Regions from separate parts of the Homo sapiens genome. Here region 2 is linked to region 1. Evidence: fine-mapped expression QTL. Tissue or cell type: whole blood. Region 1 holds a variant in brackets; the other region holds the start of a gene. All regions are shown on one strand. Distances are from middle to middle.

Evidence for each region. PIP is the estimated chance that this variant, and not a neighbour inherited with it, causes the effect.
Region 2: GHRL starts here. The variant in region 1 is fine-mapped to the expression of GHRL in whole blood (TOPMed, PIP above 0.99).

What each region holds. Positions count from the first base shown.
Region 1 is chr3:10,312,818-10,317,025 of GRCh38, reverse strand. It overlaps SEC13 (SEC13 homolog, nuclear pore and COPII component), which reads left to right. Exons shown (of 9, transcript NM_183352.3): 3 at 1,590-1,705. Among named protein-coding and RNA genes, the nearest start is that of SEC13, 6.2 kb to the left of the region's middle. The variant T/G (reference allele first, on the strand shown) is at 2,564.
Region 2 is chr3:10,290,936-10,295,143 of GRCh38, reverse strand. GHRL (ghrelin and obestatin prepropeptide) reads left to right here and starts at 2,197. Exons shown (of 6, transcript NM_016362.5): 1 at 2,197-2,302; 2 at 3,693-4,208. GHRLOS (ghrelin opposite strand/antisense RNA) reads right to left here. Exons shown (of 6, transcript NR_073568.1): 6 at 1,695-3,076. RefSeq lists enhancers at 2,005-2,299, 2,110-2,359, 2,370-2,439, 3,951-4,208.

The DNA of each region.
Region 1 (4,208 bases):
TTCTTTTTTTTTTTTTTTTTTTTTGAGATGGAGTTTCGCTCTTGTAGCCCAGGCTGGCATGCAGTGGCGTGATCTCAGCTCACCGCAACCTACGCCTCCCGGGTTCAAGTAATTCTCCTGCCCCAGACTCCCGAGTAGCTGGGATTACAGGCGTGCGCCACCACTCCCAGCTAATTTTGTATTTTTAGTAGAGGCAAGTTTTCTCCATGTTGGTCAGGCTAGTCTCGAACTCCCGACCTCAGGTGATCCGCCCGCCTCAGCTTCCCAAAGTGCTGGGATTACAGGCGTGAGTTTTCATTCAATATCTTGTTTAACCTTCATAACAACTGTTGAGACAGATGCTATCTTTAGCCTTATTTAAAGATAAGGGAACTAAGGCCCATAGGATGTTGGTAAATAATAAAGATAAGGAAACTGAAGCTCAAGGAGATGAAGTGTTTTCAAAGTTTGCACAGCAGGTAAACTAAGGAGATAGGATTTAGATCTGAAAGGTACTATGTCCTGCCTCCTTCCACTGAGAAGCATGAGAAGTGCTTCAGAAACACTCCTCTACTGCCTGCCCTCCAAGAAACCAAGGCCTGATACAGTGGAGGGAGTTCCCAAAGAAAAATCAGGATGTGTTCCTTGCGTAGGGAGGTGAGAATTCCCATCTGAGCCAGACAGAATGAGTGCCTTTGAATGGGCATAATTGCCCCTGGTGGCCATGGGAGTGCAGCTGATAGTCCTGAAACTCCCAGGGTGGGACAGCTGGGGAAAGGGACATCCATTGGAATAGGCAGGGCCAGCAAGCAGAAGGGACCAGGGTGTTCAGTGGTGCAGGAGGCATGGTGCCTCAGAGACCATCACCCTGCGGACAAGGATCTGCAGGTAGGGGCCAGGCCTAGTTCTGCATGCTCAGTCAGCATCAAGGAATTCGGTTCACAAGTGGTGAGAGCAGCGACACTTAAGGCATTGTGTTCCTTGGGTGGAAAGTCTGGGAAGCTCTGGGCACACTACTAGGGAAAAGGTCGAGCAGAAGCCCCAAAACAAAGGTCCACAAAGGATCCAGGGCCAGGGCTGGAAAGAGCCCAAATATCTGAATGGAACCCTGTGTGCAGGCCAGAGCTGCATCACAGAAGACCTGACTGGGGACTCCAGGCAGTCAGAGGCCCACTCCTTTGGCCTGCTCCCATGCATTAGCATCAGGTGCTAGGGCTGAGCTGAACCCAGGGGTATTCCCCTTTAGCCCACAGAGCCTAAGAACTGAATAGGGCCTGAGAGGATGGAGGAAGAAGAGGGCAGCTAGGCCAACTTTTTTTCTCCCATACCCACCCTGCGGAACAGGAATGGAAGAGCCCTTCCCTGAGGTATGTAAAGGGTCTGTGACACCAGCTGGGCATGGCTTGCTTTGTCCATTTCAGAGAGACACTGCCCATAGGTGAAGTGAGAATGTCCACATGCTAGCTTCCTGCCTGAGGGTGATGATACTTTGAGATCAGATTGATTTCAGGGAGATTCTGGTCCAAACTAGACTCTGTGTAGTGACAGCCCTCACCCCACCCACCCACCCACCCAGCCTGCAGGCTTCCCGAGCTGTCCTCCCTTTGCAGCACGACGCCCAGATGGACTACTATGGCACCCGCCTGGCAACCTGCTCATCAGACAGGTCCGTCAAAATCTTTGATGTGCGCAATGGAGGGCAGATCCTTATCGCCGACCTCAGGGGGTAAGTGCTGGCGAGCCCAGGGAAGGGCTCCAGGAATGGTGTGGGTTCTCAGGCCCTGCTTCAAGCGTGGGAGCAAAGCATGGGAGCCCAGATTCAGAGCAACCCCAAAGCACATTTAGCGGAGAGGACGCTGGGATCCCAGCCAGCCTGGCTGTCCTCAGCGGACGTCCCCAGGGATGATGCTGTTAAGGGCACAGGTGGATACAGGTGTGAATCTCAGCTCTGCCACTTTATGTGTACCCACCAGAAGACCTTGGGCAAGTGACTCAGTTTCTCTCTCAGAGCCTTCATCTGCTCATCCTCAAAATTGGGCCAATGCTACCTCCTATCCAGCTAGTGTATGCAAGGCCCTGACACAGGGCCCAGGACACAGTAAGTCTTTAGTGCAGGCAGCTACTGCTACTTTTAAAAGTGGTAAACAGTACCATTTCGTTCAAGTTTAGCCAGTATGACCTAAAGTGTCACAAAAGCATCACCGTAAGAATAATGTAAGAATGCTATCATTTTATAAATCCCATTGTTCTGCCTATATGCCCGTGGCACGTGTTCAGTGATTATTTACAAATGTTTGACCTGCCCTGCTCCCTACTGAGATTCTTGAGGAAGTCCTGGCTCATTTTTATGGCCACATCTCTACTGCTTTCCCTCAGCTCACTGCCTTTCACGTATTTGTGGGTTTGCCTGGGTGCCGTGGATCTCCAAGGGTTCTGTGAATAGAGTTCAGGGGTTGATGAATTGGGACAGGGGGAAAAAAATGCATTTTCAGTGACTCTGATATTTAGCATTTCCTTCAATTATGGATGTAGGCCAGAAACTTCAGTAGTATTTGTAGTGCCTGTCACTTTGTCACCAGTAGAA[T/G]TCACAGATATTGTCATCACACATCACGGTTACTTAGCTACCTCAAAATACCACTTATGCTCATCACAACTTTGAAATTACAGTGGTTATTAGACCTGCCGCTAGGGTTTGTTGCTTGAAGTGTTAACAAAGAAGTACATGCATCACTATCTCATAAATTGCTTTATAATATTTTGATAACAGGCTGGGCAAGGTGGCTCACGCCTGTAATCCTTAACACTTTGGGAGGCTGAGGTGGGAGGATGGCCTGAGCCTAGGAGTTTGAGGCTGCAGTGAGCCACGATGGTGCCACTGCACTGCAGCCTGGATGACAGGGTGAAACCCTTCTCAAAAAAAAAAAGTTGATTACTGTATAATTTATAATTGAATTTTCTTTATAAGCCTAGTTCTGTGTGTTTTGTACATTAGTCTGATGAGGGTCCATAACCTTCCCCAGAATGCACAGAAAAGATTAAGAGCCATGACAGGTGGGTGCTCAGCATGTGTTTGTTCACTGAATTAAAAAGCATAAACTAAGTCAGTGTCCATTTGGGGAAATGGGCCTAGAAGCTCCCCTCTGTCTGAGTGTCAAATGATCAAGTGACTGAGGAGCCAAATCAAGCTTCTCTATGCAGGAGCCCCCCAGGCAGGCAGAGAGCTGCTGCAGTGCAGCGTGTTGGCCAAGGCAGTTATGTTTGCTGTGACTCTGTCCTTTCTGCTGTTTTTCTTACATTCAAAGGATGTGAAATATTGGAGGGATAAAAAAAATTCCCACCCCATTCTTTTTTCCCCTTAGTAAAAACTGTGCTAGTTGTTGGAAGATTGAGTCTACTCAGTTTCATTAGCAGCAGCTTTGTAGGGACTGGGAATGTCCTGTTGTCCCAGCCAGAGGGAGGAGGAGACTTGAGTGTGTGCAGCCCACGGTGAAGGAGTAAACCAGGAGCAGCACTAATAGCTAATGGGTATTGAGTGGCTTTTTTCTTTCCTTCTACCAAGCATTGTTCCAAACTTTATGAAAGAATTCTTATTGATGTCTCCATTTTCAGGTAAAGAGACAAAGATATCCTTGCCTAAAGTCAAGAGCTAGTGAATGGGAGAATGGGTCTGGTCTCCTAACCACTAACTCTACCATGCTACTCTACCTCTTGAGTGCTAAGGTGCAAAACCTTCCCTGGGCCAGAGAAATGGTCACCGTACAAAGCCTGGCACAGAGCATGTGCTCAGATAGCACCTGTTATCAGGTGAATGGATAAAGATCAGAAGAGAAGGGAAAGACATGCCTTTCGAACAAATTAAAAGAGTAGTGGAAAACATCAAAATGAAACCAATAATGCCTCCTCAGGAAGCTGACCGTCGGGAAGGATGAATAGCAATTCAGTCTACAAATATTTCCTGAACACTTCTGGCTGGAAACCTTGGACCAATTAATGACTATGCTGTAGACAGCACATACAGACAGTGCTGGCTGCAGTCTGGGCAAGTGAGGCTCCTGCCTGGCCAGGACAGGAAGGCTGACCCAGAGGCTCAACTCTCTCTCAAAGGCTCTGTGACCTTAGGTTGCTTAACCTCTTAGGACCTCAGGCTCCTCACTGTCCACTGAGCACCCCTTTTGCAATGGCATTGTATAGTTCTCCCTTTGAAGTTCTTAAGCAATTCTGCCCTGATA
Region 2 (4,208 bases), 22 kb after region 1:
TGAAGTCATATTTGTAAATCCTAGAGCAACCACTCAAAGAATAGAACAGTACAGTATAGCTAATAAGCCGACGGTGAAGACAAAATGATACCATTCAAAACCCTCTAAAAGTGGTTATGACAAGAGAAAGAAAAGGAAGAACAGATGGGACAATGGAAAAATTGGTGACTTACAAATAGTCTGGAGATTAACAGTAATGTGCTAACACTGGTGTTTTAATTTTGATAAATGTACTACGGTTATATAAGATATTCACGAGTGGAAACTGAATTGGGTTATTCAGAGAGAAAGATTTCATCTTCCATATGTTTATATTTTCTGCTGGAAGCAAGCATTTATAATCAAAATTTACCTGGGATACTTGGTAATTTATAATCAAAATTACCTGAGATACTTGAAACAGATTCTAAAGCCCCCACGCCAGAGCTACTGGATCAGAATCCAAGGATGGAGTCTTATAAACGTGCATAAAACTTATGAAGCTTTCCTCATGAATCCAACACAACCCAACACAGGTCTGTATCTGGAAATTGAGACGAGATGGCCCTCCAAGCCACGTCCCACCCTGAGGTCGTCCTATGGCTCTTAGCGGTCCATAGACTAAAAGGCTGGATGATCAGCAACGCTGAGACAACAGTTTCAGTACAGCAGTGGGGATGAGAGGCAAGGTCAAGTTTTGAGGGGCCAGGACACAGCAAAGAAGAGGACACAAGGAAAGGGGAAGGAAATGGAGATGGTAACACGAGGGGAGGGTGGGATCGGTGCACAACAGACGTTTTCAGGATTAGGAACCTGGGTGTATTTTAAGGCAGAAAGCAGAAGCCACTGGAGGGGAACAGAAGACACGAGAGAGGCAAAGTGTTAGAGCTTTGGCCCCAAGATGGCCGGAGGCTAGGGAAGCCCCAGTGAGAGAGGCAGAGCTTGGCGAAGAGGAGGGATGAGAGAGCATGGCTAAGGTCAGGGAGGATTTAAGAGCGATGGCCGCCTATCTAGAATGAGCCGCATGTGGCTGCTGAGCATTTGAAACATGGCTAGTCCAAATTGAAATGCACTGTAAGAACACACACTGGATTTCAAAGACTACACATCTGTAATCCCAGCACTTTGGGAGGCAAAGTCAGGCAGATCACTTAAGCCAGGAGTTCAAGACCAGCCTAGGCAACATGTCAAGACTCTGTCTCTACAAAAAATACAAAAATTAACTGGGTGTGGTGGTGTGACCTGTAGTCCCAGCTACTTGGGAGCCTGAGGTGGGAGGATCATCTTAGTCCAGGGAGGTGGAGGCTGCAGTGAGCCATGATAGTGCCACTGCACTCCAGCCTGGGTGACAGAGCAAGAACCTGTCTCAAAAAAATATATATGTATATTCATTTAGACATATGCTGTTGCACACTTAGACTATAGTATGGTATCAGCATACGTTTTATATTTACTGGGAAACCAACAAAATTCGTGTGACTTGCTTCATTGTGGTCTGGGACCAAAGCTGTAATGCCTCCAAGGTATGCCTGTATATTTCTATTGCAAAATGTGAATCTCGAAATTATAAAAGCTACAACTAGGACAAAAAGCAACCCCACCAAATAGCCCTATATCAAAGAATAAAATCTCTTTCTAGAACCCCAGAATTTGCCTCTTTCAGACTGAAGTTTAGCCAAATCTATGAAAAAAGAGCTTGCTAAACCAACTAATTATCAGTACAAATAAAATTATAATGAAAAGTCTATGAAGATAATTTGTTCTCAGATGCCCTTCACATATAGCAATTAATTCACAAATGATGAGTCACTCATGTGCCTTCATGAAGGCAGGCCCTCAAGAGACCCGCAACAGAAAGGAAAGCCACCGACTGGAGAGAACCTGCTTCCTGAGCCCCACCAAGTTCCAAAAAGGAGAATGGGGCTTCGTCCTCACCCTCAAGGAGTTGCCAAACTGGGCTTGGTTATTATTCACACTTGAAAAGAATGAGGAAGGTCAGCCAGTCCCCTCCAGGTCGCTCGGGCTTCCTCCAAGCTCCTCTTGGTTCAAATTTGCTGTGTCCTCCAGCCGGCATCTCTCCTCTGTTCCGTAACTGACAGGGCAGCGAGGTAGCTTCCGGATGACTCCTCCCGCCATGGTTCTTCCGTCCATCAGCTCTTCCTTCCTCAACTCTGTGGTATGTGGCTAGGGGAGTTTCCAACTCCCAGGGGACATTTCAGTTCCCCAAAGATAACACAGCTTTGCACAGTGGATGTTTACTTGCTGGTGGTCTTATCTAAGATCAACATTGGCAGCTGTGCCCGGAGAGGCCTCCAGGGTCCAGGTAAGTGGAGGCTTCATGTCTCAGGAGGTACCTGGTCACCACAGTTAGGATTTTTCTGTTTGGGGATTTTTTTTTTTATGGGTTGGTGGCTCTGAAAAAGCTGCAAGTCTTCTCTGAGGACTACAGACCTCTCTCCACCCTCTCCACATTCAGCCTCTCTGGGCTCCAGGGCCAAAAGATGTCTACACTCAGGTGGCAGACAGGCCTGTGAAGACCTCCTGGTGACATGCTCATATGTTGCTGGGACTAAAGGTGGGATTTTAGCCACCACAGTGGGTTGGTGGTGAGATGTTTACCAACAGGAGGTACTTTGTCCCTCATGTCCACTTAAAGATTCAGTCCAACCCGGCCTGTGCTTCTGCTGTCCCAAGAGACTCTAGAAAGCTCCAATCCTCCCTGAGGTTGATCTTTTAAGTCAGGGTAGGTGGTCATTCGGCAATCAACTGCTCTACTGCCTCAATGTCCTCCTCACTGGACGTCCTGCCCCAATTCCATCCTGTTCAGCGCAGACTGATTTTCCTGGAACACAATGTTCATTATGGAGCCAGATGGCATATCAGAAAGAGCACTGTATTAGGAGTCAAGAGATCCATGGGGGAATCCCAGCATTGCCCCTGATGGCTGTATAGCTTTGGGGAAAGTGAGGCCCTCTTGGCATTCAGTTTTTCTTCCAGCGAAATAAAGGATTCAGCCTCCCAGAGCTTTAAAGTCTTTCCAACTCTTTCATTCATTCTATGGTCTCTCTCTCCTCAAGAATCCTCAGTGGCTGCCCTCCTGCAAAAAAAGCCCAAACTTCTTGGGCTAGCAGTTCCCAAGGCATCCATCACCTGGCCCCAAACCACCTTCTTATGTTTTTGTTATGACCCCATCGCCACCCTCCCCCAAGCCACCCAGCCTTCTCCATGCTGCCCTGATGTACTCTACCCACGCCTTCACCTCCCCTCTGCTTGCCGCAAAGCCCTCCCTCCAAAGCCCTGCCCCGAGTTCACCACAGGCCTCTTTCCTGGAGCCTTTGCTAACATCCCTGCCGCAAGCCCCAGCCTAAGGTGAGCTCCTCTCCTGAACTGCTAGAACTTCTCTGCAGACAACTCATTGGCCCTTAGGGGTTCCTGCCTGGGCACCCAGTTGGATGAAGCACTCCAGAAAGGAAGAAATTCCTGGGGCCGAGGGAAATGAGGCAGTGGCCTTGGCCTATGCTGGGAAGTCCTATGGGCCTGGTATGAAACCATTGTCATCTGCAGGGTGTTTCACAGGTTAGAAGCCACTTTCCCCCCATCGCCTCATTTCACCCTCAAAGACTCTGGGTAAGGGGAATTATTTGTGGTCGGCGTAAGGCCAGTCAATGAGAGAGGAGCCAGGCCCGTGCTAAGCGTAGATCTTCCACCTCCAGGTCCAATGCACTTCCCTCTCAGAAGAGGCATCCGCTAAAATAGGGACCAAAGCTGCTGGAGGGAGGCAAGGCAAGCTGCTATGTGAAAAAACGCCAGGCCAGGCAGTCATGTCACACCTGGCAGAAATGACTGAAGCATAGCCACTGGCTGAAGTTATCCCCACACCCACTCTCTGGAGAGGATGATCAGGAGCAGTCTGCTCAACCGGGAGGTGGGACTCCTCCTCGGGAAGGTGTAGAATCACCAGCCTGGCTCCCTGCGGACTCCCGGGGCTCACAGAGGCCAGAGCAGCAACAGCACATGGGAAACAACGGGGCGCTGGACTGGGGAGGTCTCAGAGCTCTCCTAGTGATGACAGCCTCATTTTACCCAGGGAGAAAGGGCGAGTAAGCTAAGGTCACACAGCAACAAAGCTGCACCCAGACCCCAGAGCCACTCTCCTCCCTCCCTCCTCCACCAGGGCCATGCCCACTTGGGGCACCCCGCCACCGTGTTCCAGGGACAGCTGGAGCACA